Homo sapiens: one gene and its partners. The protein of the gene in region 1 purifies or fractionates together with the protein of each later gene. This does not show direct contact. Each region holds a gene or a part of one and is shown in the gene's direction. Other genes may lie near its edges.

What was found.
Region 2: the proteins of KIF15 (region 1) and DCAF4 purify together in Homo sapiens (co-immunoprecipitation; one large-scale study listed by IntAct). This does not show direct contact.
Region 3: the proteins of KIF15 (region 1) and AXIN2 purify together in Homo sapiens (affinity purification with mass spectrometry, with the first as the bait; one large-scale study listed by BioGRID). This does not show direct contact.
Region 4: the proteins of KIF15 (region 1) and DEK purify together in Homo sapiens (affinity purification with western blotting; one study listed by BioGRID). This does not show direct contact.
Region 5: the proteins of KIF15 (region 1) and PISD purify together in Homo sapiens (affinity purification with mass spectrometry, with the first as the bait; one large-scale study listed by BioGRID). This does not show direct contact.
Region 6: the proteins of KIF15 (region 1) and MPC1 purify together in Homo sapiens (affinity purification with mass spectrometry, with the first as the bait; one large-scale study listed by BioGRID). This does not show direct contact.

What each region holds. Positions count from the first base shown.
Region 1 is NC_000003.12:44,799,088-44,804,210, forward strand, and holds part of KIF15 (kinesin-like protein KIF15), read left to right. Parts: intron 1-107; exon of another isoform or gene 108-201; coding exon of another isoform or gene 202-204; intron 205-1,226; coding exon 1,227-1,350; intron 1,351-2,362; coding exon 2,363-2,439; intron 2,440-2,677; coding exon 2,678-2,887; intron 2,888-3,726; coding exon 3,727-3,904; intron 3,905-5,123. UniProt on the Homo sapiens protein: Plus-end directed kinesin-like motor enzyme involved in mitotic spindle assembly.
Region 2 is NC_000014.9:72,949,772-72,954,894, forward strand, and holds part of DCAF4 (DDB1- and CUL4-associated factor 4), read left to right. Parts: intron 1-2,026; coding exon 2,027-2,106; intron 2,107-4,389; coding exon of another isoform or gene 4,390-4,392; coding exon 4,393-4,491; intron 4,492-4,614; coding exon 4,615-4,712; intron 4,713-5,123. UniProt on the Homo sapiens protein: May function as a substrate receptor for CUL4-DDB1 E3 ubiquitin-protein ligase complex.
Region 3 is NC_000017.11:65,555,149-65,560,271, reverse strand, and holds part of AXIN2 (axin-2), read left to right. Parts: exon of another isoform or gene 1-756; intron 757-1,535; 5' UTR 1,536-1,651; coding exon 1,652-2,466; intron 2,467-5,123. UniProt on the Homo sapiens protein: Inhibitor of the Wnt signaling pathway. Down-regulates beta-catenin. Probably facilitate the phosphorylation of beta-catenin and APC by GSK3B.
Region 4 is NC_000006.12:18,236,249-18,241,371, reverse strand, and holds part of DEK (protein DEK), read left to right. Parts: intron 1-3,855; coding exon 3,856-3,991; intron 3,992-4,771; coding exon 4,772-4,920; intron 4,921-5,123. UniProt on the Homo sapiens protein: Involved in chromatin organization.
Region 5 is NC_000022.11:31,621,104-31,625,838, reverse strand, and holds part of PISD (phosphatidylserine decarboxylase proenzyme, mitochondrial), read left to right. Parts: exon of another isoform or gene 1-23; coding exon of another isoform or gene 24-76; intron 77-1,989; coding exon of another isoform or gene 1,990-2,155; intron 2,156-3,953; coding exon 3,954-4,190; intron 4,191-4,307; exon of another isoform or gene 4,308-4,366; coding exon 4,367-4,505; intron 4,506-4,696; coding exon 4,697-4,735. UniProt on the Homo sapiens protein: Catalyzes the formation of phosphatidylethanolamine (PtdEtn) from phosphatidylserine (PtdSer). Plays a central role in phospholipid metabolism and in the interorganelle trafficking of phosphatidylserine.
Region 6 is NC_000006.12:166,380,141-166,384,100, reverse strand, and holds the start of MPC1 (mitochondrial pyruvate carrier 1), read left to right. Parts: upstream 1-1,160; 5' UTR 1,161-1,224; coding exon 1,225-1,295; intron 1,296-3,960. UniProt on the Homo sapiens protein: Mediates the uptake of pyruvate into mitochondria.

The sequences.
Region 1 (5,123 bases):
AGTCTCTTAAGATTTACTAGAAGTCTTTGGAGATATAGAACTGCAGCAATAATTAGAATTATGAAGTCACTGATGGGACAGTGATGTCAGAAGTGCAGTAGTACCTTGTAATGAGGCTGGCCATAAGAATCAGAAGCAACTGGAAATGGCTGCTTAACACACAAAAGAACAAAACCAAGAGCCTTCTACTAGTCACTCTCAATGGTAAGCCCTTTGCAGCCTATCAGTGGAAAGTGCCAGAGTATCTGGGACTTGTTTAAGGATGTGCTATTTAAATTTTTCCGTGAGCAAATTGGGCTTACAGCGAGAATACAGAAGACCTTGGGGCTGTCACAGGGTGTTTTTTCCTTGCTGGAGTACTGAGTATTTCACAACTGAGTCCTCTGACCTGGTTGGTACTCAGCTGTTGGCACTCGTTATCACCCTTTAGGCTTTGTGGACCTTTTTAAAGCTTTATTTTTTTAATTAATCAACTTTTTTTTTTTTTTTGAGATAGAGTCTCGCTCTGTCAACAGGCTGGAGTGCAGTGGCGCACATGTGTGACCTGCCCCACTCTTGACATCCTGCCCCACAGTGGCACATTTTGTTTGTGAGTCCTTTAGCCTTTTAGAAGTTGTCCTAAATAAGACATTTCTTTAAGAAAATGAAGATAATCATTTAGTGTGGTAAAAAATTAAAAAAAAAAAAAAAAAGGAAGTGTCAAACCAACCCCTCCTTCCAAGAGGGCTGTTAAAAAATAAAGGTCGGATTCCTCTGGAGAAGGTTGCTTCTGCCAAGCTCAAGCCCACCCTGCAAGTCATCATGCACTTAGAGGCTAGGCTCCTTCCCCGTAGGGAGCTAGGAAAGAAGGGAAATGATACTCACTGAGGTATTGGCTCTTCTCCATTGGGAGGGTGGGGGAAGGCTGTCGTTCTCAGGGAAAGAAGTATTAGGTGAACACACCCGGATCCTAAGGGTGACCCAGCCTAAAAGCTCAGGGCTAGTCAGCTGGGGGGCAGAGAGCCTGGCTGGGGCTGTCTCTCTCTGGCTCCAGGTCTGAAGGCACAAGAAAAGGAAGCTTCCTCCCCACTTGAGCACACTGTGATTCCTGTGTCCTTTTGACTATGATGTGGTCTTGAAGTTTTGTTTGATGTTCATCACTACAAATCATACCAAACAAATGTAAACACAGGACTATACTACTCAAAAAGCATTATTTTAATGCTTTTTAAAAAATTCCTGAACAGGCAGTAGTAAATGAAGACACCCAAGGAAATGTGAGCCAGCTCCAAGCTGAAGTGAAGAGGCTCAAAGAACAACTGGCGGAGCTTGCTTCAGGACAGACACCACCAGAAAGCTTCCTGACCAGAGGTAGGATGAGCACACAGTCCTTTATCTTGGGGAAGACTGTACAAATAATAGTTTAAGAGCCCTTGGTGATAGACACAACACAATAAGGCAACCCAAATTTTTCTGCAGGTATCTCTTTCTGCTTATTTCTCCTATATAGGAACATAGTGGTTTGTTTATAATCAGATACAGATACCATAGGCAGTGAGAAGGGGGAATTAAAATAATTTTGAATAATGTATAAGTGCTAAAAAGAGATTAATTTCATTTAGATCTACTTCTACGTAGCATATGTAATCTATATATGTTTACTATAGGATAAGAGAGACTTATTTTTCTTCAAAGAATAGCTAGTAGAGAATTAATTAACTGGAAATCCATAAAGGCAAGAGGGTGAATTATTAACAGATCTTAAGAGGTGCACAGCACCCTGGGACTCCTCTAATTTTTTAAAAAATCTACTTCTACTTCTGTTACACCATGTGTAATCTATTGTGCATATTAACTAAATAAAGAGAAACTTATTCTTTGAAGAACGACTAATATGTGGAATGGTTAATTTGAAATCCGTGATCTAGTGATGACGGTCTCATTGTTTTTTTTTTTTTTGAGACGCAGTCTCTCTTTGTCACCCAGGCTGGAGTGAAGCAGTGTGATCTCAGCTCACTGCAACCTCTACCTCCTGGGTTCAAGCGATTCTCCTGCCTCAGCCTCCTGAGTAGCTGTGACTACAGACCCACGCCACCATGCCCAGCTAATTTTTTTGTATTTTTAGTAGAGATCGGGGGCGGCGGGAGGGGGGGGTCTCACCATGTTGGCCAGGCTGGTCTCGAACTGCTGACCTCAAGAAAGATATCCGTCTGCTTCAGCCTCCTAAAGTGCTGGGATTACAGGCATGAGCCACTGTGCCCGGCCACAGTCTCATTCTTTTAGATTAGTTGAGAGCAATCAATTAAAGGCTATCTGTTCTCTTGGTTTTGCAATGTGATAAATATTTTTTTTCATCTTCCCTTTCTTATTGGATCAATTACAGACAAAAAGAAGACTAACTATATGGAGTATTTCCAGGAAGCAATGTTATTCTTTAAGAAATCTGAACAGGAAAAGAAGGTAGGAAATGGAATTAGTAATAAAGGAGATTCAAGATAGTTAGTTTTTTGCTGTGTGGTTTTTATTGCCTTACTAAGTGAAATAAATAATACCAAGTCAATAAAGTAATGGAAGGCTATGAAAAATCAAATTTTGCCTTTAAGATTAAATATGAAATTAGTATTTGTTGCTGGACTTACGAAAATTTAGGGAAGTCAAATTATTTTTCATGTTTAACCAAATTATGAATTTCTTTAAGTCTCTGATAGAAAAAGTTACCCAATTAGAAGACCTCACCCTCAAAAAGGAAAAATTTATTCAATCTAATAAAATGATTGTGAAATTCCGAGAGGATCAAATAATACGCTTGGAAAAGCTCCACAAGGAATCCCGGGGAGGTTTTCTGCCTGAGGAGCAGGATCGTTTGCTCTCAGAATTAAGGAATGAGATTCAAACTCTGCGAGAACAAGTGAGTATACGGCATCTATAATATTTCTAAAAATAAAAGAAGTTCAAAGCAAATCTAAGTTTGTCAGCAAGTACTTGTTCTTTAATACAATGGAAATTGTTTTAAGTGAATTCTTCTGACAGTGTGATTGCATAATTCCTTTACCTGTCTTTTTAAAATAGTTAAAGGGAAGAGAAGGGGAGAAGGAAGAAGTTGTGGTGACATTGCTACATAGTATGCTACTCTAGCAGGCCACGCAGAATTTCACCCAGTGGGCAGTTGTGGTTATCTGAGTCAGTAGGCTCTTTAGGGTTGTGCCTTTTAACGTTTTTGTTGTTTTTCCTTTTCCTTAGGGAGAATGGATAGGTCATACAGGTACATTGTGGGAAAACCCAAAATCTCTTATCAGCTTCTTGTTTATCTCTCTGGAGTTTTTAATGAATATTCAAACTAATATGGGTGGATATTTGTACTTTTGTTTCTCCTGTACACTTTTTTGCACTTCGCCTTTTTCAGTTAATCTTGGTTGACAAGATTAATTTGGTCCTTGTTCTTTTCAGTGTGTTGATTTAACTAGTCTCCTTTGCATGAAAAGCCTGCCACAATGTACACCCTTGTGCTTACCTCCTTAGGTGGGTGAACATTTCAAGGGTCTAGACTCCAACTGAGAATAGGAGAGTTACAGGACATGCATATTTTCAAACTGATCACAAATGCCAAGTTGCTTTCCATGGTGGTTGCAGAAGGGTACCACCAGTAGTGCATGTGCATACCTAGTTTTCTAATGGCTTTTTAGAGGAACTAATTCACTAAGGAAATGTTTGTAAATATATAATGCGTGTAATTCTTCTATGTCACAGATAGAGCACCACCCCAGAGTTGCAAAGTATGCTATGGAAAATCATTCCCTCAGGGAGGAGAATAGAAGACTGAGATTATTAGAGCCTGTGAAAAGAGCTCAAGAAATGGATGCCCAGACCATTGCAAAACTAGAAAAAGCTTTCTCTGAAATAAGTGGCATGGAGAAAAGTGACAAAAGTAAGAAATGATTGTTGTATATACGTGCCATGTAGGAAGGGGCTGTTTTAAAGAGCATTTTTAGTGCCTTGTGACTAGGGTCTTCATTTTAGCCTCCAGGCCTGCTATGCTAATGTCTTATACACATATTCTTTTATATTATAGAAAGGTATTTACTAAACTTTTCTTTTTCTCAAAAATCACAGAGCATAAACTACGTAAGCTAATAGATATAACGAGAAAATACTCATTGTATTTGTTTTATTGATAAAAAGATTGATTCAGATACTATGTTAAATTTTTACTAAATTTTCCTGTTTAAAGTATTTGAAATGAAAAGTCTTTAACTAATCAAACGTGAATAAAAATAGAGTTGAAATGTTTATCAATCTAATTAGTCCTGTGCAGTATAAGAGATATAGAAAGGTCAGACTCATAGCACAGTGTTTGGGTCCTGATGTTGTGTTTGGGTCCTGGTATTGTGGTTACCAATGTATGCAGTCTCTAGTTACATACTACTTTCATAAGTTTGCATACTATGTGAAAAGTGGTTTAGTTAATACTAAATCTGCCTTACAGTCTTGACAGCTGTTGGTGTTCATACCCTGGGATTTGGTAACAAAGTCTGTGTTTGCCCCAGTCTTAGAGTTAATATTTTCACGGTCTTTTATCATAGACTTGGCCTTGGTTTCCTTTTAGGTTGAAATTGAAAAAGTTCTAATGTTTTTATTCTGCATTCATAAAGAAGACTGTCTCTTTGCTTTTTAAAATTTCATTTTTTAAGCCTTCTTCCATTCTGTTATGACTGAATAGAATAATAAGAGTCACAGTAACTGGGTTGGGGAGAGACTTAAGATATTAGATGCAAAATTACTATCAGGTTTTCTGTTGTTTTTTTTGAGATGGAGTCTCACTCTGTCACCCAGGCTGTAGTGCAGTGGTGCGATCTCGGCTCACTGCAACCTCCACCTCCTGGATTCAAGCAATTCTCCTGCCTCAGGCTCCCTCCTGGGATTACAGTCACACACCACCACACCGAGCCAATTTTTGTATTTTTGGTAGAGATGGGGTTTCACCATGTTGGCCAGGCTGGTCTTGAACTTCTGGCTTCAAATGATCCACCCACTTCGGCCTCCCAAAGTGCTGGGATTACAGATGTGAGCCCCAACGCCTGACTTAGGTTTTCTGTTTTATTTAAACTACTTTTCCCTACAGTGCCCTTTATTTTGTTGGCCATTTT
Region 2 (5,123 bases), on another chromosome or scaffold:
AAATAAAATGTTTAAGAAGATTTTTAAAAGTTACATGATTGCTTTTCAGATATTTACATTTTCCAGTGAGGAATATGTGTGGTCATTCAGACAACACCTATCGAGTATATGCAGTTGCAAGGAGATAGAGACAGGCAGCTCCACAAGTCCTCAGTGTAGGAGGAAAGCTGCATGCAGGAGGGATTGCAGCCACCTTCCTGGAGGGAGACCCATGAGGGCAGGAAGAGGCCAGGGACCCCTAATAGGAGGAGTTGGGAGAAAGCTTGGTATGTTTGGCAGCAGTTTGATATTCATGATGTCTCTGGCTAGGGAGCAGGGCCTTTCAAGACTGAATGCTCGCTCAGGGCTGTGGGAGGTCCCAGGGGGTTGTGATTGTGGAGTCATTTTTGAAAATGATTCCTTTGGTGGCATTGTTGGGGGATAGACGGACGAGAGCAAGTCCTCAGACAGAAGCTGCTGCAAGACTAAGGGCGGTGGTGAGGGCGTGAAACGAGGTATCAGGAGTGGAGGGAAGGGCACCAAGAGGCAGGTGCAGGCTCTAGCCCGGGCATCTTGTGATAGGAGAAGGCCAGGATAGACCTCCCAGAGAGTGGTGGGTTGAGGCCAAGGAGTGTGTAGTAGAAATTGGGCTACATGGCCATAGGGCAGAACTGGAATGTTTCCATCAGATTTAGAAACCAGAGGCTCATTGAAGACTGATGAGAACATTTCTCTGGGAAGGTGAGGGTCAGGCCTGGATTTCAGTGGAGGAAAGGCAAGGGAATGAGAATAAATACAGGCTCCTCTGGAACAAAGTTTGGCTATGAGGGGAAAAGGAGAGGAACCGCGTCAGTCAAAAGACACACACGTAGGCAAGGGTATAAAGGGGCAGGTCAGAGAGGGAACTCCAACGACTATGCTCATGTGAACAGAGACACCCACATGTAGTCAGGGAAATGCAAATTTAAATAACAGTGAGGTATCACCTGGTACCCATTCAGATAAGCAGAAATTTTAAGGGCTGGTAGTGAGATATTCCATGCAATGCCATTTCTGTATGTTTTTTTTTAAACAAAAGCTGCTTTGTGTTATTTATTGACAAATATATGTAGTGGAAATACAGCATGGCTTAGAAGAACTTACACCAATTTGAGAAGAGCAGTTCTCTCTGAGTAGAGGAGAAGGGAGAATTGGACTAGGGAGGGATCAGAGAGGGCTTTTTGGGCTTTTTAATAGTATTTTATTTTTGAGACATGGTCTTACTCTGTCACCCAGGCTGGAGTGCGGTCACATGATCACAGCTCACCGCAGCCTTGACTTCCAAGGCTCAAGCAATCCTCCCACCTCAGCCTCCCAAGGAGCTGGTACTACAGGCACACACCACCACGCCCAGCTAGTTTTTGTATTTTTTGTAGAGACAAGGTTTTGCTGTGTTTCCCAGGCTGGTCTCGAACTCCTGGACTCGAGTGATCCTCCTGCCTCAGCTTCCCAAAGTGCTGGGATTACATAGGCAGGAGCCACCACACCCAGCTTTTAACTATATCTGATTTGTTTTTCCCTTTAAAAAACATCTGAAGCTGGCCAGTCACGATGGCTCACCCCTATAATCCCAGCACTTTGGGAGGCCGAGGCGGGCGGATCACGTGAGGTCGGGTGTTCGAGACGAGTCTGACCAACTTGGAGAAACCCCGTCTCTACTAAAAATACAAAATTACCCGGGCGTGGTGGCACATGCCTGTAATCCCAGCTACTCAGGAAGCCGAGGCAGGAGAATCGCTTGAACCTGGGAGGCAGAGGTTGCGGTAAGCCGAGATCGCGCCATTGCACCCCAGCCTGGGCAACAAGAGCGAAACTCCGTCTCAAAAACAAACAAACAAAAAAAAAACATCTGAAGGTAAATGTGGGCAGTGTAAACGCATGTTGAATCTGGACGGTGGGGGTTACTCTGGCCTAGGTTGTGTGCCGTATGACTTTCTGAAGGGTAAATGTCCATGCCTCCTCCCAGAGGGGAGCCTTGTGCCTAACTGTCCTTAACAGCTTTTTCCAGGCTATGCCTCATGGGACTCGCAGAGACTCCAGGCTGTGCCACCCTGCTCCCAGCATCACTGTTCGTCAATAGTCACCCAGGTACAGGGTTCTCCTCCTTTAAAGAAATCTGTCCTCTGTCTCCCGAGAGCTGTGTGGGGGTGGCTTAGAGAGAAGTATGGGGCCGCTGCAGAGGCACTGTGGGAGGATTCCCTAAGCCTGTCCCAGGGTTAGTACCAGAAGCATGTGTTTTTTTTACAGCATCTGCCCCTTTTTACCCATCTTGGGCCATTTCAGTCATTTCAGCAGCCAGAGCAGACTTAACACGCATGTAAACCAGCGTGAGCTCAGAACAGATTCGGACGCCCGTGCACATCATTCAGAAAACACCTCTGAAGGTCCAAAGCACCTCAGGTGCTATCAGGGATACTTAACAGTCTGCCTACGTTAAGGCAATTTGACTCCTCCTTCCTGACAGCATTCTGGATATTACATTTCAGTCTATCAGAAAATTAGGATCAATAAGACCAGGGTGAGAGGCCTCTTAAGAGTGTGGGCTTCAGGCAGACCTGGCACGAATCCCAGCTCTGCCCCTTGCCAACTTGAATGGAATGTTGAACCTCTCTAAAGTGGACAGGGCCTTCTCAGTCCACATCCGTGGAGAATTAGGTGAGATCATGCACATTTAGCCCAGTGCCTGGTATTTCATTGCACAGCAAGCTTATGAGGCAGGAGTGTGTCTTACCACCATTTTACAGATAAGGAAACTGAGGCAGACAGTTTCAGAATTTGTCTTACAAAAGTAATTTTTAGTGTTGGAGGTCAGGCTCACAGTACCCTTTGGGGAGGTAGTAATTGGGAAAGGGATGTGAGGGAGGCCTCTGGGGTACTGGATTGTTTTATGTCTTGTCTTGTCTTTTTTTTTTTTTTTTTTTTGAGACGGAGTTTTGCTCTTATTGCCCAGGCTGGAGTGCAATGGCACGATCTCAGCTCACCACAACCTCCGCCTCCCAGGTTCAAGCAATGCTCCTGCCTCAGCCTCCCAAGTAGCTGAGATCACAGGCGCACACCACCACGCCCGGCTAATTTTTGTATTTTTAGTAGAGACGGGATTTCACCATGTTGGTTAGGCTGGTCTCGAACTCCTGACCTCGTGATCCACCTGCCTCGGCCTCCCAAAGTGCTGGGATTACAGGTGTGAGCCACAATGCCCGGCCTTTTTTTTTTTTTTTTTTTTTTTTTGAGATGGAGTTTCACTCTTGTTGCCCAGGCTGGAGTGCAATGACACGATCTCAGTTCACCGCAACCTCCGCCTCTGGGGCTCAAGCGATTCTCCTGCCTCAGCCTCCCAAGTAGCCAGGATTACAGGCATGTACCACCACACCCGGCTGATTTTTGTATTTTTAGTAGAGATGGGATTCTCCATGTTGGTCAGGCTGGTCTCGAACTCCCGACCTCAGGTGATCCACCCGCTTCGGCCTCCTAAAGTGCTGGGATTACAGGCGTGAGCCACCACGCCTGGCATGGATTGTTTTATTTCTTAACCTGGGTGGTGGGTACATGGCTATATTTAGTTTGTGATAACTCACTGAACTGTATCCTTACAATCTGTACGTTCTATCAATGCAAAAGTTTATTTTAAAAAATATTTTTTCGAAGCACAGTGGCTCATGCCTGTAATCTCAACACTTTGGGAGGCCAAGGCAGGATAATCGTTTGAGCCCAGGAGTTCAAGACCAGCCTGAGCAACATAGCAAGACTCCAATCTCTACAAAAAATAAATAATTAGCCATGTGTGGTGGCTCACACCTGTGATCCCAGCTACTTGGGAGGCTGAGATGGGAGGATTCCTTGAGCCTGGGAGGTTGAGGATGCATTGAGCCATGATCACGCCACTGCACTCCAGACTGGGCAAAAGAACAAGACCCTGTCTTAAAAAAAAAAAAAAAAAAAAAAAATATATATATATATATATATATATATATATAGTTTATTTATTTATTTATTTGTGTGTGTGTGTGTGTGTGTGTGTGTGTGTGTGTGTGTGTGTGTGTATATACACACACACTTGCCTGAGATCACATAGCTGGTAGGTGATCGAGGATCGGAGCCACCTTACCTCCAACAGTATACTACCTCCCTGATATCAGTACTATTCGTACTGTAAACACGACTACTGGGAACGTTAACAAAGATGCATTTTCGGAATAACCACTTGTGAGCCAGGCATCCCAGCTGAGTCTCTCTTGCAACCACAAAACCCAGAATGGGGCCAAAGGTATAGACCCTCTGAGCAGCTATGGGCATATTTGGATGTTTTCCGAACCCAGTGGTCCCTGGCCTGCCTAGAAGGCAGCCACACTTTACATTCTCCTATCCCCTTAGCAGGAATAGACCGGCCTGGCATGCTCTGCAGTTTCCGGATCCCTGGTGCCTGGTCCTGTGCCTGGTCCCTGAATATCCAAGCAAATAACTGCTTCAGTACAGGTGAGCCTGGCTCCCCAGGTGCCCAGAGAAGAGGCCTTAACAGGCCTTAAAACCCCATGTAGTTGTCCCTCTCCCCAGACTACATGTGACATAATCTTACCAGCCCATCTCTGTCTCCGCCAGGCTTGTCTCGGCGGGTCCTGTTGACCAACGTGGTGACGGGACACCGGCAGTCCTTTGGGACCAACAGTGATGTCTTGGCCCAGCAGTTTGCTCTCATGGTTGGTTGGATTGGGACAGGCAGAATATAAAAGTTTGCCCCATGTAGAAATTTGGCCAGATTGAAATTGGACTCCTCTGTGTGCCATCTAGTACTCTTTGACAGGGGAGAAAGAGCATCAGAAAGGATCAGTGGGTTCCTTTGTAAGGGTGTCTGAGCCGAGTGAAAGTTGGTTGATCCAGAAAGGCTGGCCTGAGTTGCTCTACACAACCTCTCATGGAAAGGTATTGTGAGCAGTTCTTGGGTACTTGGATTTACCCAGTAGGACAAACCATTTTTAAAATGTATAAGCCAAACACCAATTCTTCACAGCTCCCAGGTTATATATTTTATATGTTTAAAAAATCAGGCCAGGTACAGTGGCTAATGAATGGCTGTAATCCCAACACTTTGGGAGGCCAAGATGGGTGGA
Region 3 (5,123 bases), on another chromosome or scaffold:
GCGTCCCTCCTCCCGGCCCGGGCCCCTCGCCCGTGGCCGCCCCGGCCCCTTTTGCGGAGAGGCAGAGACTCCGCGCGTCGCCATTTCTGGACTAGGCTGCTGCTTTCTGTGCTTTTTCTGCGGGCGCCTCTGCAAACGGCGGCGCCGGGGACCGACCCCCCGCCCGGGCTCGGGGCGCTGCTGGCGTGTCCCGGGGTTCCGGCCTCGAGGTGTGCCCGCCAGGGCTCTGGAGGCGTTCAGTTGCATTTGGGCCGGGGGACCGGGCCGGAGGGGCTCGGAGGACATGAGAGCCTGGCTTCGGCGGCCTTCGTCTTCCAGGTAACGGGGCCGCTCCACCTCCCACCGCCCGGGTAGCGCGGTGCCAACGGCAGCCCCACTTCTCCGTGGGCCGCGCCGCCCAGCCCCGCGGCTCGAGGCTCTGGTCGGGTTCAGCGTGCACCCATCCCAGATCCGGGGTCCCTGGCTTCTCGCCCGGGGTTGCACCCCGTTCAGCCCCTACCCTTCTTAGTTTGATCTTTTCCGTGCTAGGGAAAGCAGCTTGTTTATTGGTTAGATAAGACTTTTTTCTTTGGAAAAAAGACAGGCTTGAAATCAGTAGAGTTTGGGATTCTTGGCACAGGCAGTAGTGGCGTGAGACGGCTGGTGATCCAGTTTTGTAGGTTTCGCGGATCCGGGAGGTGGGTTGGGGGCACGGGGGCGACGGTTCCGAGGCTTCTCAGCTCTCTCTCAAAGTTTGAAGATGAAAGTCTCCCCTGAGTGAGTTGGTTTCTGGTTTGGGGGGAGGTCAGGGAAGACAGAGGTGTTGACTGAGCTGGATTCTTGGTGGGGGTAGGGGGCGCGTAGCGAACACTCAAATCTGAGTTGGGGAGGGGGTGTTTGCGTGCTGAATCTGGGAGTCCGGGAGCCCAATCCGCCTATGCTGGGCGGGCTTCTCTTGGGCCAGGATCTTCTGAATTTTTAAGGAGTGGGAAGAGGGAGCGCAGAGGGAGGGGGTGGGTGGGGAGAATGGGAACCAGATGCCGGGGAAGGGCACGTTTGGAGCTCGAGTTATCTGTGCAGGGCCGAGTGGGGAAATATACCGAAATTGGTTTCACCTGCACACAGCCTAGCGGCTGGGAGTGCGCCTTTTTGGAGTTGATGGTATCGGGGGAGGGGAAGGGAGGGAAGGCGAGGCGCGGGCTGAGCTGCCCTGCGTGCGCCCTGGCCGAGTGGGTTTTTGGAAGGTTGTGTCTTACACCTCCAGTGTCCCCCTGCCGTCCCCAGCTCTTGCCTTCCTCTCACCTTCCCCGCCTCTTTCCCAACAGCTCCCTCCCACCCCCAACCCCGAAAAGTGTGCAGGGAGCTCAGATTTCGCTTTTGAAAAGCAGCGCCTGATACTTTAGATGAGCACCTCGCAGATAGCTGGGTTGCTTGATTTGAATTTGAGGAGTTGAAAAGCCTGTTTACTTTCTTGCTTTGATGTTGGGTAGATCTGGTTTTGATTAGATCAATACCCTTTTCTCTCTCCCCACCTCCCCCCTTCCTTTTCTTTCCAGAGAGGAGGTTCAGATGAGCCCCTGCTGACTTGAGAGAGACAGAGAGACCACGCCGATTGCTGAGAGGAACTGGAAGAAGAAAAATTCCCAGACTCAGTGGGAAGAGCTCCCTCACCATGAGTAGCGCTATGTTGGTGACTTGCCTCCCGGACCCCAGCAGCAGCTTCCGTGAGGATGCCCCGCGGCCCCCAGTGCCAGGGGAAGAAGGGGAGACCCCACCGTGTCAGCCAGGGGTGGGCAAGGGCCAGGTCACCAAACCCATGCCTGTCTCTTCCAACACCAGGCGGAACGAAGATGGGTTGGGGGAGCCGGAGGGGCGGGCATCTCCGGATTCCCCTCTGACCCGGTGGACCAAGTCCTTACACTCCTTATTGGGCGATCAAGACGGTGCTTACCTGTTCCGAACTTTCCTGGAGAGGGAGAAATGCGTGGATACCTTAGACTTCTGGTTTGCCTGCAATGGATTCAGGCAGATGAACCTGAAGGATACCAAAACTTTACGAGTAGCCAAAGCGATCTACAAAAGGTACATTGAGAACAACAGCATTGTCTCCAAGCAGCTGAAGCCTGCCACCAAGACCTACATAAGAGATGGCATCAAGAAGCAGCAGATTGATTCCATCATGTTTGACCAGGCGCAGACCGAGATCCAGTCGGTGATGGAGGAAAATGCCTACCAGATGTTTTTGACTTCTGATATATACCTCGAATATGTGAGGAGTGGGGGAGAAAACACAGCTTACATGAGTAATGGGGGACTCGGGAGCCTAAAGGTCGTGTGTGGCTATCTCCCCACCTTGAATGAAGAAGAGGAGTGGACTTGTGCCGACTTCAAGTGCAAACTTTCGCCAACCGTGGTTGGCTTGTCCAGCAAAACTCTGAGGGCCACGGCGAGTGTGAGGTCCACGGAAACTGTTGACAGTGGATACAGGTAAGACTTTGACGGGGGCGGGTGGGCTGATGCTGTGGACTTTGCAGATGTTTTAAGTATGGTGGATGGGTGGATGGGTGTGCTGCAGAGACTGACAGGTCTGTTGAGTTAGGACTGCTGGCCATGAACCCTTTTTGATCTTGCTTTTTGTTGTTGAAACAGGGGGAAAGCGATGCACATACAGTAAATACCTGCAGTCTTCCAGTGCTGACTTCAAACAGTGGCAAGCAGTATTCACTAATGTGGGTTACTTATTATCCCGGGCTAGTGTCTCAGAAGAGGTTGAGAGAGAGAGAGAGGACAGCAGCTTTTGATGCCTCTGAGTCACCAGATCCACTAAGCGCCGGTTTTGGAAGGGGTCACTTCACCACTAATCAGTAGAGGGTGGAATTAATGTGGCTAGGGAGGCAGCTGGGTTGTGGTGGAGGCACAGGAAATAATATGTGCACCCATTGAGGGGTAAGTGGGATTTTTTTTTGAACTTTTCTGTTAAGATAAGAGCCAGCAATTGGCTTAACTGAGCTTGTGGTTCCCTTTGTAGAATTAGATATTTACCCAGCAAGAAAGGCCTCTAACTAGGGAAGGTCCTGTGACTTTCCCAAATGAAGGACCCTTACCTTTAGAGCTTGCTGGCATATTAATCCAGGTTTTAAATGCTCATGAGTCCGAGGGTCAGACTTCAGTTGATTATTTTGTTAGTGCTGATGGAGAAGAGATCTTGGCCCGGGAGTACTGGGGCCCTGGAGTACTTTCTCTTTGAGGCTTCAAAGACAAATAGTTCTTTGCAGAATGGCCAAGTCTTAAGATTCTTGACCTTTGGAGGCAACTTCAGACCTCTTGTTAGAATGAGTTTTTCTGTTTTCTCCCCTCCTCCCGACTTCCAAATATCCGAAAAGAGAATGAGCCTCTTAATTCCGGGGTGTGGTTTTATGACAGGCAGGGGATGGGGCTGCACTTGACTGCTCTCTGAATGATTTATCTTGCTCTCTGTGTGAATTTCTCTGTGTGTTAGGGGCCCAGGATGCGGTCTGATAGCTGCCTCTGGATTTCCCTTTCTCTGTAGGATGTGGTCTCTAGTGCCCAGCAGCAGGAAGAGAGGTGGGCACCAGATGGTTGATCTTGAGCCTCTCAGGGTGGCCAGGTCTGAGCCTAGCGGGCCATGATTTTAGGGGCGGCAGAGAGAGTTGACTGTTGGCGAGGAGAGGAAGGGCTTGTTCTCCAACCACCAGGGGGCGCGCTTGTGGCTTGGGAACCAGTTTTACTCAGACATCTGGTCTACACCTAAGTGGAACCAGGTTGACTTTTGCAAGGAAACACAGGTTCCAGGGAGGTGTTTCAGTGTCTTTATGCTTGTGGAGTCAAGTTGTCTGGGAGGAAGATCCTGGGTCTGGCCTCTGCAGTAGGTCAGTCGCCGGGCACCTGCTACGCCTGCCCGCCCCATTATGAGACCATTTGGGTAAGCCTCTGGCGCTGGCCTCCTTGCCCTCTAGCCTGGCAGCCAGAGCTGAGACTACTTAAGAGCCGTGGTAAAGGCTGCTTCTCCAGGGGCCTCCTGACTGGGGCTTCTGTGTCTCCCACTGCCGGGACCAGAGTGTCACCTTCGTAAATAGCACAGTGTGTGGTTTTGGACGCCCTCCCCAGGCAGGGCTCTGCTGTGAACCCTCCCCTTTGTGGGTGGGCAGTTGCGACTCAGCCTGGGCTTGCCTCATCTGGGATATTACCAGGATGCAACTCATGAAGCTTTTGAGATCCAGAAGGCAGGGACAGAAGCTCCTGTTTTCCAGGGCTGCCTTCTTGGCTGTGAACCGTGGACATCACTGATAAAGAGGTGACAGCTTGTCATTGACCTGAGAGTTTCCATACGAGATTCACGTGTGCCTTCTCCCACTGTTGGGTTGAGATGAAGCATCTTAAAGGACTCTCTGAAGCTCATATGTCTTAACTGGGCATATTTAAAGAGAATTTAAGACATAGCCAGATGATCTCACATCATTTTAACGTGCAAGATATTCGAGTGTGTGCACAGTGTATGGAAAGGTCTGCTGACTCCTTATTCAAAGGCTTGCATTCCAGCCCGGTCCACCACTTACTGCTTGGGTGTTGAAGCCTTTCTGAATGGCATGTGCCCATCTGTAAAATGGGTGGGCACCATTCCTTCTGTCTGTGTCATAGGATTGTTATTAGGACCAAAATAATAAACATGAAAGCCTTTTGTAGAGAGAAACGTTTTGAACCGCCGCAAAGTGTTATAATTAGTATAATTAGTAATGATGATGTAAATAGGACAACCAGGTTGGGATGTCACTTTTAAAGGGTGACTCTTGGCTTAGCCCATTTTCCATTGTAAGGTTTTAGAGTGGCCCCCTGACCCCCATGCCTCAACTTTCTTATTGAACTGAAGTCTGTTTTTCCAGCTAGTTCTTGGAATGTAGAGATCCCATCTAAGGTTTAAGTTCCCCCCTTCCCTCTCCCGCACACTCACTCATTCTGCAGAGTACCTGGCATCTGGGATGGGCTTAATAAGTTAGTAAAATGAATGGAACAGAAACGTCAGTGCTGCTGAGGATGGTCTTTCTTCATCAGCTGCTGAGGAGCGGTCTTGGCAGCCGGATGCCTGGGGCACTGGCCAGGCTTGCAAGCCCTGTGTTTACCTCGGG
Region 4 (5,123 bases), on another chromosome or scaffold:
AGATTTGAAAGTTCATGTAAAATTAAAGGGGACATTGTTTAACTTGCCTTGTCAGCTCTCCCTGTGTTTTTTTCTGTTACCTCCAAATTCTGGTTACCCATATTTACCTTGACAGACAAAAATTGTCCATTGTGTCCTAATACCAAGGTATGTCCTTTGAGATGCCCCCATTTTCCAGAGACCTATTCCTCCTATACCTAATAACCTTCAGGGCAGCCGAAGTGATGAAAACCTGCAGGACTAAAGCACAAGATACAAATTCATTAGTAGTTTTACTGTTCAGCTTTCATGATTTCTTAACTCAGCATTAATCTAAAAAAGAGACTTTACCAAATTCCTACCTTAACTTTGTCACAGAAGAATTTACAGCTGGTTGCTAAAGATAAATGAAATTCTGTATAAATGACATGACGTATTACTATAGATGTTTGCGGGCCATGTCGTATCTACTATAATGTAGTGAAGTAAGTGCGATATATCATGGCTAGTTAATACAGTTGTTATTGAGTTTGTCTCACTGTGTTTATAATTTCCAGTCTGTGTATCTGCCCTGCTTTTAAAAAAAAGAAAATTAGTTTTTTAGAGATAGGGTCTTCTGATTTTGCCCAGGCTGGTCTTGAACCTCTGGCCTCAAGTGATCCTCCCATCTCAGCCTCCTAAAGTGTTGGGATTACAGGATTGAGCCACTGCACCCTGCTTTTTGAAAACACTTAGAAAGTTTAAGTTATTGGAGGAAATTATATTTGCATAATCAAAGAATTTCTCATTCTGCAAAAGGAAGCACTCAGTAATAATAGTTAATATTTAGTGTTTACTATTTGCCAGGTACTACCAAAAATACTTTTCATCTGTTAATGTATCTACTCCCCATAAAACCATAGGAACTATTGTTTCTTTTGTTTTGTAAATGAGACAAGGGCCCAGAGATGTACTGGGGCTGGAATTTGAAACCAGGCAGCTTGCTGCTAGAGCCTGTACTCTTTGAACTATTATGTCGTATATTTTTCTTTAGTGCTTGTGCAGTATATTTGCAGTCTTTTAGAAATTTTAATAGATGACAGGCCTGGTTGTCCGTTTAGAAAAACTGTAGAACATTATCCTTTACAGCAGATATGAAATGTAGAAAGATGTGGTTTTGTTATACAGAAGTAAGATTTTATGGAGATGGCTTGTTATTTATTATTATAAATGTTTATGCTTTGACAAACTGTCACTACTCACAATTTGCAGGTTTTAAAATGATGTCATGTTGTGTATCACATCTAAAATTTTAATGGCAAGCCTTAAAAGGCTTTGGAAGTATTTTAGTTATCTAATTCTGATTTTCTAATTTGAATGGAGATTGAGTAATTATTGATGATATTGTTTCTTTTGCTCAACCTTCAACCCTTTCAGTAATAACTTACTTTCTTGTACCTGCAAGTCCAGATTTTATTACCGTTTAACTAAAAAATGATATATAATCATGATTATTGTATTCTGTGTATTAAGTGTGCTAAAGAACTTAAGAATTTTTAGGATTCCCTTTCAGAGCCTAATATATAGTTCACATGAACTGGGTGGACACTTAATGAACCTTAAAACTTAGTTTAAGTTCGTCATAAAAAAACGACAAATCATTGATACTTGTCCCATAGCCCCACACCATCTAGAACATCTCTTAGGATTAGGAAGTAAGTTAAAATGGCCTGTAAATCGCAAAAGTCCATGGGAAATTCATGTACTTACTTTTAGAAGCATGTCAGCCCCTTGACACCTTAAAAATGTATTTTTTAGTAGCAGTTAAACTACATGCTTCCCAGCCAGTGGTATATTGTTGAGGTAGTGCAGGGTGATGATAGGCTTGTATAAATAGGTACAGTGATGGTATATTAGCAAAAAGAAAGACAAACACTAAAATCCAGCCAGGTGAGGTGGTGTGTGCCTGTAGTCCCAACTACTCAGGAGCCTGAGGTGGGAGGATTGTTTGAGTCTAGCATGGGTAACATAGCGAGACCATCTCTTTTTTTTAAAAAAAAAAAAAAAAAAAAAAAGACACTAAAATCCAATGAATAGCTTGAGGCCACTTTTGGAACAGATTGATGTGTATACTTTAATCTAAAGGATAGGTTCAACACAGTGCTTATGTCTTTAAAAACAGGTTGACTTGGCCGGGCACAGTGGCTCACGGCTGTAATCCCAGCACTTTGAGAGACCAAAGTGAGTGGATCACCTGAGGTCGGGAGTTCCTGACCAGCCTGGCCAACATGGAGAAACCCCGTCTCTACTAAAAATACAAAAGTAGCCGGGTGTGGTGGCGCATGCCTGTAATCCCAGCTACTCAAGAGGCTGAGGCAGGAGAATCACTTGAACCCGGGAGGCAGAGGTTGCGGTGAGCCGAGATCATGCCATTGCACTCCTGCTCCTGCCTGGGCAACAAGAGCGAGACTCCATCTCAAAAAAAAAAACCAGGTTGCTTTAGGATAACTCTCAGGAATCAAGAGTGTTAAACATTTGGAGAAACGTTCTGTCAAGTGATCGCAGTAGTTTTAGTGTGTAAATGGGAGAATTTAAAATATCTTGGAATGTTTAATAGGAAGCTTTTCCTTTGGGAACATTAATTAAACTAAGAATTAATGCTTTCTAATTTCACAGGCTCCACATGAGACAAAGTATGAACTCTGATTTTGTCTTTTTTTTTTTTTTTTTGAGACAGTCTCTCTCCTGGAGTGCAGTGTCATGATCTCCACTCACTGCAACCTCCATCTCCAGGGTTCAAGCAATTCTCTTGCCTCAGCCTCCTGAGTAGCTGAGACTACAGGTGCCCACCACCACACCCAGCTAATTTTTGTATTTTTAGGAGAGACAGTGTTTCACCATGTTGACCAGGATGGTCTCAGTCTCTTGATCTCATGATCCGCCCGCCTTGACCTCCCAAAGTGCTGGAATTACAGGCATGAGCCACCATGCCTGGCCTGTCATTTTAATCTATCCATATTTATGTATTTTGTTTGTGTCTAATCACCTATGGGTTAGTGTTTAAGAACACAAGTTCTGGAGTCACATCTATATTTGAATCTTGCATGTTTATTAATGTGACTGTGGACAAGGTAACCACACTGAGCCTTAGTTTCCTCATATAGTCATAAGTATTTATTGAGCAACTACTGTATACCAGAGACTATTTTAGGAGTTAGGGAAACATCAGTGAACACAAGATTCTAGGCCAGGTGTGGTGGCTCATGCCTGTAATCCCAGCACTTTGGGAGGCCAAGGCAGGCAGATCATCTGAGGTCAGGAGTTCAAGACCAGCCTGGCCAACATGGCAAAACCTCATCTCTACTAAAAATACAAAAATTAGCCGGGTGTGGTGGCGAGCACCTGTAATCCCAGCTACTAGGGAGGCAGAGACAGGAGAATTCGCTTGAACCCGGGAGGGCAGAGGTTGCAGTGAACCAAGATCGGGCCACTGCACTCCAGCCAGGGTGACGCAGCAAGACTCTGTCTCAAAAAAAAAAAAAAAAAAAAAAAAGATTCCAGTTGAAAGAGAGAGAACATAAATAAGAGAAGATAATATTATCTATATTTAGGGGTCCCCCCCAAGATTAAGTAGAGTAATGCATATGTAGTTTATCCATAGTGTTGAATAAATATGGGCAACTCTTGTGTGTGTGTGATTGTGATTTGTCATGCTTAGACTTGTGTTGGGATAAAATTGTTGTATATTAGTCATCTCTCAAAAAGAATTTTTAATTGCTGATACCAAATATATTGGTTTTCTCTAATATTATTAAGGGGCATAGGGGAAGTAGAGGGATGGGATGGGATAGCATTGAATCTCATCAATATGTGTACTTTTACTTTCTTTTGTAACAGCCACCAAAAAAGACAGCCAAAAGAGAAAAACCTAAACAGAAAGCTACTTCTAAAAGTAAAAAATCTGTGAAAAGTGCCAATGTTAAGAAAGCAGATAGCAGCACCACCAAGAAGAATCAAAACAGTTCCAAAAAAGGTATGTTAGAAATAACATTAATCAGCAACTTTAAAGATATAGCATATATTAATATGTTGTACATAGTATTTAAGTGTGTGGGAGAAACAGGTAAACTGCAGAGAACATTGCGGGGAGAAGTAATACAGGTTGAATATCCCTTATCTGAAATGCTTGGGACAGGAAGTGATTCAGATTTTGCAATATATATATATAGAGAGAGAGACAGAGAGAGAGATATCTTGGGGATGGGACCCAGTCTAAACATGAAATTCATTCATGTTTCATATTCATCTTAAATAGCCTGAAGGTAGTTTAATATTTTAACTAAATAAATTATTTATTGCAGTGGTGCCGTTACAGCTCACTGTAGCCTTGAACTGCTGGACTCAAGCGAGTCTCCTATCTTGGCCCCCCAGAGCACTGGGTTTACAGGCTTGGACCACTGCCCTTGGCCTGAAACCAAGTTTTGACTGCGACCCGTCACACGAGGTCGGGTATGGAATTACCTCCTGGTGGTGTCATGTTGGTGCTCTGAAAAGCTGGATTTTGGAACATTTCAGGTTTTGGATTTTTGGATTAGGGATGCCTAACCTGTATACCAGTTTTTTATAGTTTTTGATTTTTCAAATTGACTAAAATTTGTATGCATGTTTTATAGGTAACTGTAGAGTAGTGATTTATAATTTTTTTGATCCAGTACCCCTTTGAGAATCTGTTGAAAGCTTAAAATTCATCTCAGCCTTTGTTAAATGTTAATTTACTATGTAAGAAAAATTATTATTATTATATTACTTTTAGAAAGTGAGTCTGAGGATAGTTCAGATGATGAACCTTTAATTAAAAAGTTGAAGAAACCCCCTACAGATGAAGAGTTAAAGGAAACAATAAAGAAATTACTGGCCAGTGCTAACTTGGAAGAAGTCACAATGAAACAGATTTGCAAAAAGGTAATTAGACAAATGTTTAGATTATTTTGCTTTTGCTAGAAAAATTCTTTCACTTATCTCTGAATTTGAAGCTAAATACTTACGTGCATTCACTTATTGAAGAAAGATTTATTGAACTACTATATGCCAGATCTCCTTACAGGTGCTGGGATACCACTTAAAATAGTCAAAGTCTCTGTCCTAATAGAGTTATTTTATAAACA
Region 5 (4,735 bases), on another chromosome or scaffold:
CCCCGCCCTCCCTGCGCCGGCCCATGATGTGTCAGTCAGAGGCGCGGCAAGGACCAGAGCTCCGCGCGGCGAAATGGTGAGATGCTGCCCACCGCGCCCTAACCCCACGGTTCCCCGCCACGACCTCCGGAAGGTCAGAGTTCACATCCAGCGGCCTCGCAGTAGAGGTGGCGGCAAGGGGACTGGTGGTCAGCCCCCGAGGCTGGAGGAGCCTGGCCTGGGGGGCCTGAGCACCCTGAGTCGGAGAGCCCGCTTCAGGTATCTTTGGTTCCAACCATGAGGAGGGCCCAGCAGGGGGAGGCTGCCAGCGAGCCTCAGACCTCATGCCTGCGATCTTCCCTACCCTGGTGCTCCCAGGCCCCCTGCTCGCAGCCCAGACCCTTGCCTCTGCACCCCACCTAGGAGAGAGGCTTCCCCATTCCCCTTCCTGCCCATGGGAGGGGTGTAGCTCTTCCCAGTTGGTCCCTGCTCTTCTGCAGTGAGTGGGGCAGGTGGCAAAGCCAGAGGGGAGCAGTGATTTGTCTTTGCTTGGCCCCTGCCACCTTCCTGGACCTTTTAAAAATACACCGGGGTGCGATGGGAGAGAAAGTAGGCACCCGGGAGCTGCGTGGATGCAGCCAGCTCTGAGCCTGAGCCTGAGCGGGGTTCGCCACTGGTTCGCCTGCCGTCTGCTCTGCTGCTATCAGCTGAGATGCTGCTTTGTTCCTTGGTTTGCTCAGCAACTGGGAGAGAGGACTCAGCTTCTCTTGAGAGCACAGTCCCAGATGGCAGCCGTAGATTAGCTAAATGCAGTTACTTTGCAGATGAGGAAACTGAGACCTGGGGACGTTCTGAGTGGATGGCAGTGTGGTCTCCTGCTGGCTACCCTGGGCCTCAGGAGCATTTGCTAGGCCTAGGCACAGACAGGGTGGGGTGGGCCTTGTTTAGGCGCAGGAGGCCAGGGTTGTGGTGGAAAGGCCCGTCCAGCCTCTGCGGCTCTGGTGAAGCTGAGCCCCTGCTGAGTGCCCTGCATTTGTGCTGGGAGGGTGGGGAGAGGCCGGATCACAGAGAGGCTGGATGCAGAAAGGAGGGGCTTGGGTCTCGTGTGTGTGTGTGTGTGTGTGTGTGTGTGTGTGTGTGTGTGTGTCCACCTTTGCTGAAAGGAGGGGCTTGGGATGGGTGTGTGTGTGTGTGTGTGTGTGTGTCTGTCTGTGCAGCCCCAGCAGAGCAGACAGGTGGCTTGAGAGCTTGTGGTGGGGAGGTTTTGTTCACAAACCTGTGGATGGGTTTTCAGAACCTGGCCTGTTATAGAAAGACCATGCAGATGGATGGAGCCGTAGCTGTGTGGTGGTGGTAGGCGGAGTGTAAATGCTCCCTTTGAGATCTTGTCTGGCCTTGGCCCCGTAATTTAGCAGATGAGGAAAGGGGGGGCCTGGAACCATGAAAAGGATATCCCAGATCCTGCAAAGGATGGTAGCGGAAGACTCAGCAAATGGTTACCCAGCTGGCTGGGTCGTAGCTCCTCAGCGCTATGTGCTGCCGTGCCAGTGCCTGTGTGGCAGAGCTGGCCCCTGGGGCCCACTCTCCTGGGCTGCGGAGGCTGAGGGATGTGAGGCAGGCCCTACACCCTGCTCTCCCCTTCCTGGGCCCAGGTGCTTGGGCCTGGAGGCCCTTGCTGGGAGCTGCTGCAGCTGAGAGGTGCCCCGCAGCTGGGCCTGACTCTCCTCTTGCGGCTGCCCCCACATTCCCAGTCCTCCCCAGCTGGCTGGCGGGTGGGAGAGCCTGGGAAATGAGTCCGCTAGCCAGAGGCAGCCAAGCCCCTGAATCAGAATGGGGTTGGGACGAGGGGGCACAGCCAGTGCTTGCTGGGCTCCATCACCCCCATGGAGAGGCAGCTTGCCAAGGGTGGGTAGACAGGAGGAATCCTGCCCTGGGTGCAGGTGGCAGCCTCCTGGGTCCTGCCCAGAGCCTGGCCACTGACCTGGCTGTGCATGGACCTGTGCCCTGCAGGTTGCACTTCCCCCAGCTGGCCCTGAGGCGGAGGCTGGGGCAGCTGAGCTGCATGTCCAGACCCGCTCTGAAACTGCGCTCCTGGCCCTTGACCGTCCTCTACTACCTCCTGCCCTTCGGCGCCCTCAGACCGCTCAGCCGGGTGGGATGGAGGCCCGTAAGCAGGGTAAGTGTGCACAGGCCCCTGTGGCTCGGACCTCCCTTCCGGGCAGGCCTGAGGTTGGGGTGCAGGAGAGACTGAGGTGGTGGCGAGCTGTCAGAAGCAGAGGTCACCGCTACATCTTCAGGGGGTCCGGGTCGGAAGGTTCATTGGTGGGCAAGGCCAAGGCAGCTTTTGAGAAGGCCACTACCTGGGCCGCGGGTGACTGCGAGGGCATGTCGTGCCCTGCCCACTCCCCTAGCCTGCCTCATGTCTGCCATTTGGGGCTCTGGTTCTGGAAGGAACCCAGTCTGGGGATTCAGAAAATGGTGTCTGTCTCTGATTTTTCTGTGTTCAAGCAAAAAAGAGCTTATAGGTGATTTTGAACAGAAGCCAAATTAATTCCGGGATGCCAAAGGGGTGGTTCAGGATGGATGGATCCTGTTTGGGTCCCTTAGGGTGAGGACACCCTTAAGGAACCCAGAGGCATGCCCCAGGAATGGGCAAGGGAACTGGCTTGTCCTCTCCTGGTCCCTAGAGGGCTTGCTCTTGCCCTTGGCTTCCCAGGCAGGTTGACCCCAAGGAGGAAACCCTGTTCCTGGGCCTTTGACAGTCACATGGGTGTCATCAGAGCTCAGGGGCACTGAGGCACCCTGGACATTAGCCCAGGCTCCCACCTGTGCCTGGGAAGGGCCTGGGCTCACATAGCCCTTCTGTGTGACTGGGCATCAGCTGGAAGGGATAAGAGCAGCTCTCTGGGAGCTTACCTTACCTTGGAGAGGTGTTGAAAGTTGGAATGAAATCAGTTTTACACCTTGGGGAGTTGGTGTCTTGGTTGTGTTTAGAGAAGCAGCAGCCACCAATTACAGGCAGCTTCTACAGTGGCAGCAGCACCTGAAGTTTAAGAGGCTGCCCCTTCCTGGGTACCTGGCCCTGCCGGAGAGCTCTGGGACCATCTAGTGGGACCCAGTGCTTGTCCCCAGGCCATCGTCTGTCTTAGGTGCTCCAGGCTTCCCTGAAGGAAGAGAGAACAGAGGGGCCTGAGGGGATGACTTCTCTTTGCCTCCTGGGAGGAACCCCAGGTGCAGATGGCTTTATGGCCTGGCTCAGTCACAGTAGAACGTTGAACACAAGTCCTGCCGTGGGGCCAAGGTGGGGCTCAGCAGGGCTGGGCTTCTCAGACTGGCTGCATCCAGGCCCTCAAGAGTGCTGGCTGGACCTGTGGGGGCTGCAGACCCTGTGTCTGCAGCTCAGGCCCAGGTGACAGTGACATCGCAGACCTGCATCTGAAAATCCCTGTTGGTGCTCAGGGTATCCTCCTTCTTCCTGTTAAGACAGAGGGACACACTTTGGGCTGTAGACTTGTTCCATGCACTTGGGAGCCTCCTCCTTTGGTGGTCTGGGATATGGGCAGTGACCACGGGCAAGATGCCCACCACCTCTCCACACACTGTGATATTGGGGTCACCGTGGCTAGGGTCACACACTGTGGTTAGGATCAGATCCGTTTCCGACCCCCACTTTAAGAAGTAAGACTGCTGGGCGTCTCCCGTTCTGGGACTGGAGCAGTTGCTATTTGACTTTTGCATGAAATGATGAAATCCACTGGAGTTGTATGTAAATCCAGCACTCCGTGTGGCAGGTGCAGTCTGGTTCCCAGTGAGAAACAGCCACATCACAAAAGCAGCGTGGGGCACCTGGGCCCTGGTGTCCTCCGTGGGGTGCAGATTCTCCCCTGAAGTGAGAGCTGGGCTAATGACACTACTTGGGCTCTCTGGAGCTGGGGCAGTGTGGTCAACTCAGCCCCTTGCCCTGTGGCCTGCAGGTGGCTTTGTACAAGTCAGTGCCAACGCGCTTGCTGTCACGGGCCTGGGGTCGCCTCAATCAGGTGGAGCTGCCACACTGGCTGCGCAGGCCCGTCTACAGCCTGTACATCTGGACGTTTGGGGTGAACATGAAAGAGGCCGCTGTGGAGGACCTGCATCACTACCGCAACCTCAGCGAGTTCTTCCGGCGCAAGCTGAAGCCGCAGGCCCGGCCTGTCTGTGGCCTGCACAGCGTGGTGAGGCCTGACCCTTTCCTCCTGCAGGAAACAGGACTTTTTCCTGCCTCCCCAGCACAGCCCCCCTGGTCTCCAGCGTATCTGGAAGGGGCAGGATGACAAGGGGAGGTGGGGGCTGTCTCCTGGGGGGAGGAGACCCTGCTCTCCCTGGCAGCAAGCCTCTCCTGCCCTTCCAGATTAGCCCATCGGATGGAAGGATCCTCAACTTTGGGCAGGTGAAGAACTGTGAGGTGGAGCAGGTAAAGGGGGTCACCTACTCCCTGGAGTCGTTCCTGGGCCCGCGTATGTGCACAGAGGACCTGCCCTTCCCACCAGGTGGGTCACTGCACAGGCGGGGCTAGGCAGCCCTGCTGCTGTGTGGCTGGACCGGGAGGGAGGGGAATGCTGGGGAAGGAACTGAGGCTGGCATGTGGGGCCTCCCTGAGAATCCATGTGCAGACCACACTCGGGCTCCGTGCTGGGTGCTCACTGTGTTGGTGGCCCCCACGTCTGCTCCTACTCCACAGCCGCGTCGTGTGACTCCTTCAAGAACCAGCTGGTCACCC
Region 6 (3,960 bases), on another chromosome or scaffold:
TCCCAAGTAGCTGGGACTACAAGCACATGCCACCACGCCCAGCTAATTTTTTTATTTTTAGTAGAGAGGGGGTTTAACCGTATTGCCCAGGCTGGTCTCGAATTCCTGACCTCAGGTGATCCGCCCGCCTCGGCCTCCCAAAGTGCTGTGATTACAGGCGTCAGTCACCGCGCCCGGCCACCAGAGGCATTTTAAATGATCGTCCACATTAGAAACAAAACGAAACGAAACAACTTGGAAAAGTGAGCAAAAGCCTTCAATGTGTTCTTTTCTCTGCCTTTGTGATCCGAAAGTCGTGCTGCGGTTTATATACTCCTAGGCGAGGGTCGCGTGCTAATGATCCCTTTCTTTTCAATATGCACCCGCGGTGGGACTTACAGAACCTTTATTTTCAACACGTAAGCAGTCACGCTTCCTCGAGCCTAAGGCTTTGTGCTATTCTTAAATGCTTTCCTCCTCCGACGCTGCGGCTCCCTCCTGAGCCCGTAGCTGCAGCGCGTTGGTGAGGAGCGCCGGCCCTGGGTGCCGCCCGCCACCCTGGAGGGACCGGTCCGGGGGAAAGTGCTCGGGAGAAGCCAGGGGCCCCGGCTGCGGTCGCTGGCCCGGGGCTCTGCGCACTCCCCAGTGCCCGGAAACCGCAGGCTGGCCCAGCTTGCGGGCCGGGTCCGCCCACGTGGGTGTGGGAAGCGCAGGGGACGCGGGCCGCCCGGCCAAGGTGCCCTTGCCAGGAACCGGCGCAGACACAGGCCCTGGGCGGCGCGGGAACCCGGCCAGTCCCACCGCGCGCTGCGCCGCAGGGGCCCCACTGCAGGTCGCCCCAAGACCGCGCGACGCTCGGCAGGGCGCCCACAGTCCTGTGGGTCAGAGAAATGTCACCTCCACGTCCCCGCTGGCCGGGAGCCGCTGGAGCCTAGCAACCGCCTGCCAGCCCCGGCCCAGCCCCAGCCGTTTTACGGCAGCGGGCCCCGCCCCCGTGCGCCACCGAGGGCGGGAAGGAGGCGTGCGGCACGAGCCAGCCAGTCCGCGCCACCATCTCTGGCCCTGCGCCCTGTCATTGGCCGAGAGCCGGGCGGCGCGGCGCGGCCGTAAGGCGTGGCCGGGTGTCGTGAGGCGGGCCTTCGGGCTGGCTCGCCGTCGGCTGCCGGGGGGTTGGCCGGGGTGTCATTGGCTCTGGGAAGCGGCAGCAGAGGCAGGGACCACTCGGGGTCTGGTGTCGGCACAGCCATGGCGGGCGCGTTGGTGCGGAAAGCGGCGGACTATGTCCGAAGCAAGGATTTCCGGGACTACCTCATGAGGTGACGAGCGCCGCAGGCCGAACCCCGCAACCCGGAGGGGCTCCCGGGAGGCTGCGACCCGTGCAGTCCGCGACGAGGGCGGCCGCGAGGACGCGGTGGCCCCGGGCAGCGGGTGGGCCGGGGCCCAGGCGAGAGGGTGCGCTTGTCAGGGGGGCCCCACCCGGATCCCTCCCGGACCGCCACACCCCGAAGCGGACGGCGTAGAGAGCCGGTGACAGTGGGCGCCTTTCAGGGCGGGGGTGACAGTGGGCGCCCCTCAGGGCGGGGGTGACAGTGGGTGTCCTCTCCCGGCAGGGTGACAGTGGGCGCTCCTCAGGGCGGGGGTGACAGTGGGTGTCCTCTCCCGGCAGGGTGACAGTGGGCGCCCCTCAAGGCAGGGGTGACATTGAGTCCCCTTCAGGGAGTGGGTGACGGTGGGCGTCCCTCCTGGCCAAGGTGACACTGGGGACGCCTCTCCTGGTAGGCATAACAGTGGACGCCCTTCCCGGCCAGAGTGGCAGTGGGGACCTGGAGGGACGAAAGCGACGGCGCTCCTCAGGACAGGGTGACCATGGGGACGCCTCTCCCGGCAGGGGTGACAGTGGGCGCCCCTCAGGGCAGGGTGACCCGGCAGGGGTGACAGAGGCTCGTTCCTCTCCCATGGTTGGCAGTGGGCACGTCCCTCCGGGCCAGTTGACAGTGGCTCGCTCCTCCGGGCGGGAGTGGTTTCCTGGCCGGTTTCTACCAGATCCTCGGAGTGGGTCGCCGGTCACCTGCGGCCGTCCAGGTGTGCCAGAGGCGGCGACCTGGGTGTGGGGTGGGGAGACGCCAGCGGGAGGCGCTGCTGAGAGCGCGGCGCGGCGCTGTTGGAGCGGAGCTTCGGGTGCGCCCAGCGCGCTTCTGGGACAGCGGAAATAAAATGTGCTGGCCTTGGGTTCGCCTTTCGGTTTTCTCATTCTAAGGACTTTAAGCTTGGGAGGAAGTACAATTTAAGATGTTTTTATATACGAAATTCTGTCAACCAAAGTAAAGTGACGTGTCTCTAAGGTCATACTTTTTCTTCTTGTTCTATTTTCTGTTAACTCCTCCTTTCCAGTTAGAAACAAAGAGCATTCGCGGTTGGAAAGCCTGAAAATACACTTTCTATAATTTATTTGCACCTCTCATCTTGGGGCGCTTGCTTTTATTTCAAAATATTGAATATAACTTTGAAGCAGTTTTAGGTTATTTAGGAGTGTAATTTTAGTTAGTTTTTCAGTGTATGATTTTAAAACCTAGGTACGTGTACAGCTGCGGTTTTTTTTCGGTAGTTAATAGTGTGGTCAAGAGGTAAAGAGATGAAAGCTGAGGAGGAATAAATCCTGTTATAACCACACAAAAGGGATAGTATGAAGGCAACTTGATTTTAGCAATAAAAAAGTTTTAAATCCTGAATTTTATTGCAAATACTGTTTACTTCTACTTTTATAGAGCAGTAGGGTAGGAAAAATAATTCAGTCTGCCATATGGTAAACTTGTAAACAGAAGCTTCACTTCTGACTTTCAAAAAAAGACATTTCTATGCTTAAATAGAACTACTATTAATTAAGATGGGTGTTTAGCACTGTGGAGCACAGCAATGTATCAGATTAATGGTAGTAAAAATGTGAACAAGGTAGCAGTCTGAGGGTATGCTCTCAATCCTTGCTGTTAAGTTTCTCTACAGCTTTGAATATTACTTTAGCTTTTTACTAATGTGTTGGATACTGAGCCTTCCTAATAGGTACAGCTAAGGATAACATTGTGTGGTAAAATTAAAAATACAGTTATGACACCTAGCTATATAAAAATTATGCTGATAATTACTTAACCGTTTTCTTTTCTTTTTTTTTTTTTTTTTTTTTTTTTGAGACAGAGTTTGTCTCTTGTTGCCCAGGCTGGAGTGCACTGGCACTATTTTGGCTCATCCAAACCTCCGCCTCCTGGGTTCAAGTGATTTTCCTACCTTAGCTTCCCAAGTAGCTGGGATTACAAGCATGCACCACCACGCCAGGCTAATTTTGTATTTTTAATAGAGACGGGGTTTCTCCATGTTGGTCAGGCTGGTCTCGAACTCCCGACTTCAGGTGATCCGCCCACCTCGGCCTCCCAAAGTGCTGGGGTTAGCAGGTGTGAGCCACCATGCCCGGCCCTAACAGTTTCATTACATAGGAAGAATTTGTTAAATATATTTTCAAGGAAGAGAGTTCTGCTTTTCTAAGTGTTATATTTTCTTCTACTAAATGGGTTTCCAAGAGCCAGGCTTTTCAATAGGATACTTCAGTATATCATCTAACCTTTTTTTCTAAAATTAACTTTATGTAGCTTTAAATTTTTATACTTTCTCCAGTATTTAATTCAATTACACTTTGACTAAATAAGGAAAAGAAGAGAATTGCATTACTCGGAACAGTGTTGCCTGGTAGAGCACCACACTAAGATTCAGAAGAATGACTTACAGTCCAGGATCCCCAGCAAGTTGATCCCAGCAGACTTTATTTGTCCATCAAATGGGTTTAATGATAATGCTCTTTTTGGGTTATCAAGAAAATTAAATTGGATAAGGGATGTGAAAATACTTGGAAACTCCAAATCACTCTACATTTTATTATATCCTTCTGTTTTTGCAAGCGAAAACATTTTTTAAAGTTTACAGTTATTTAGAAAG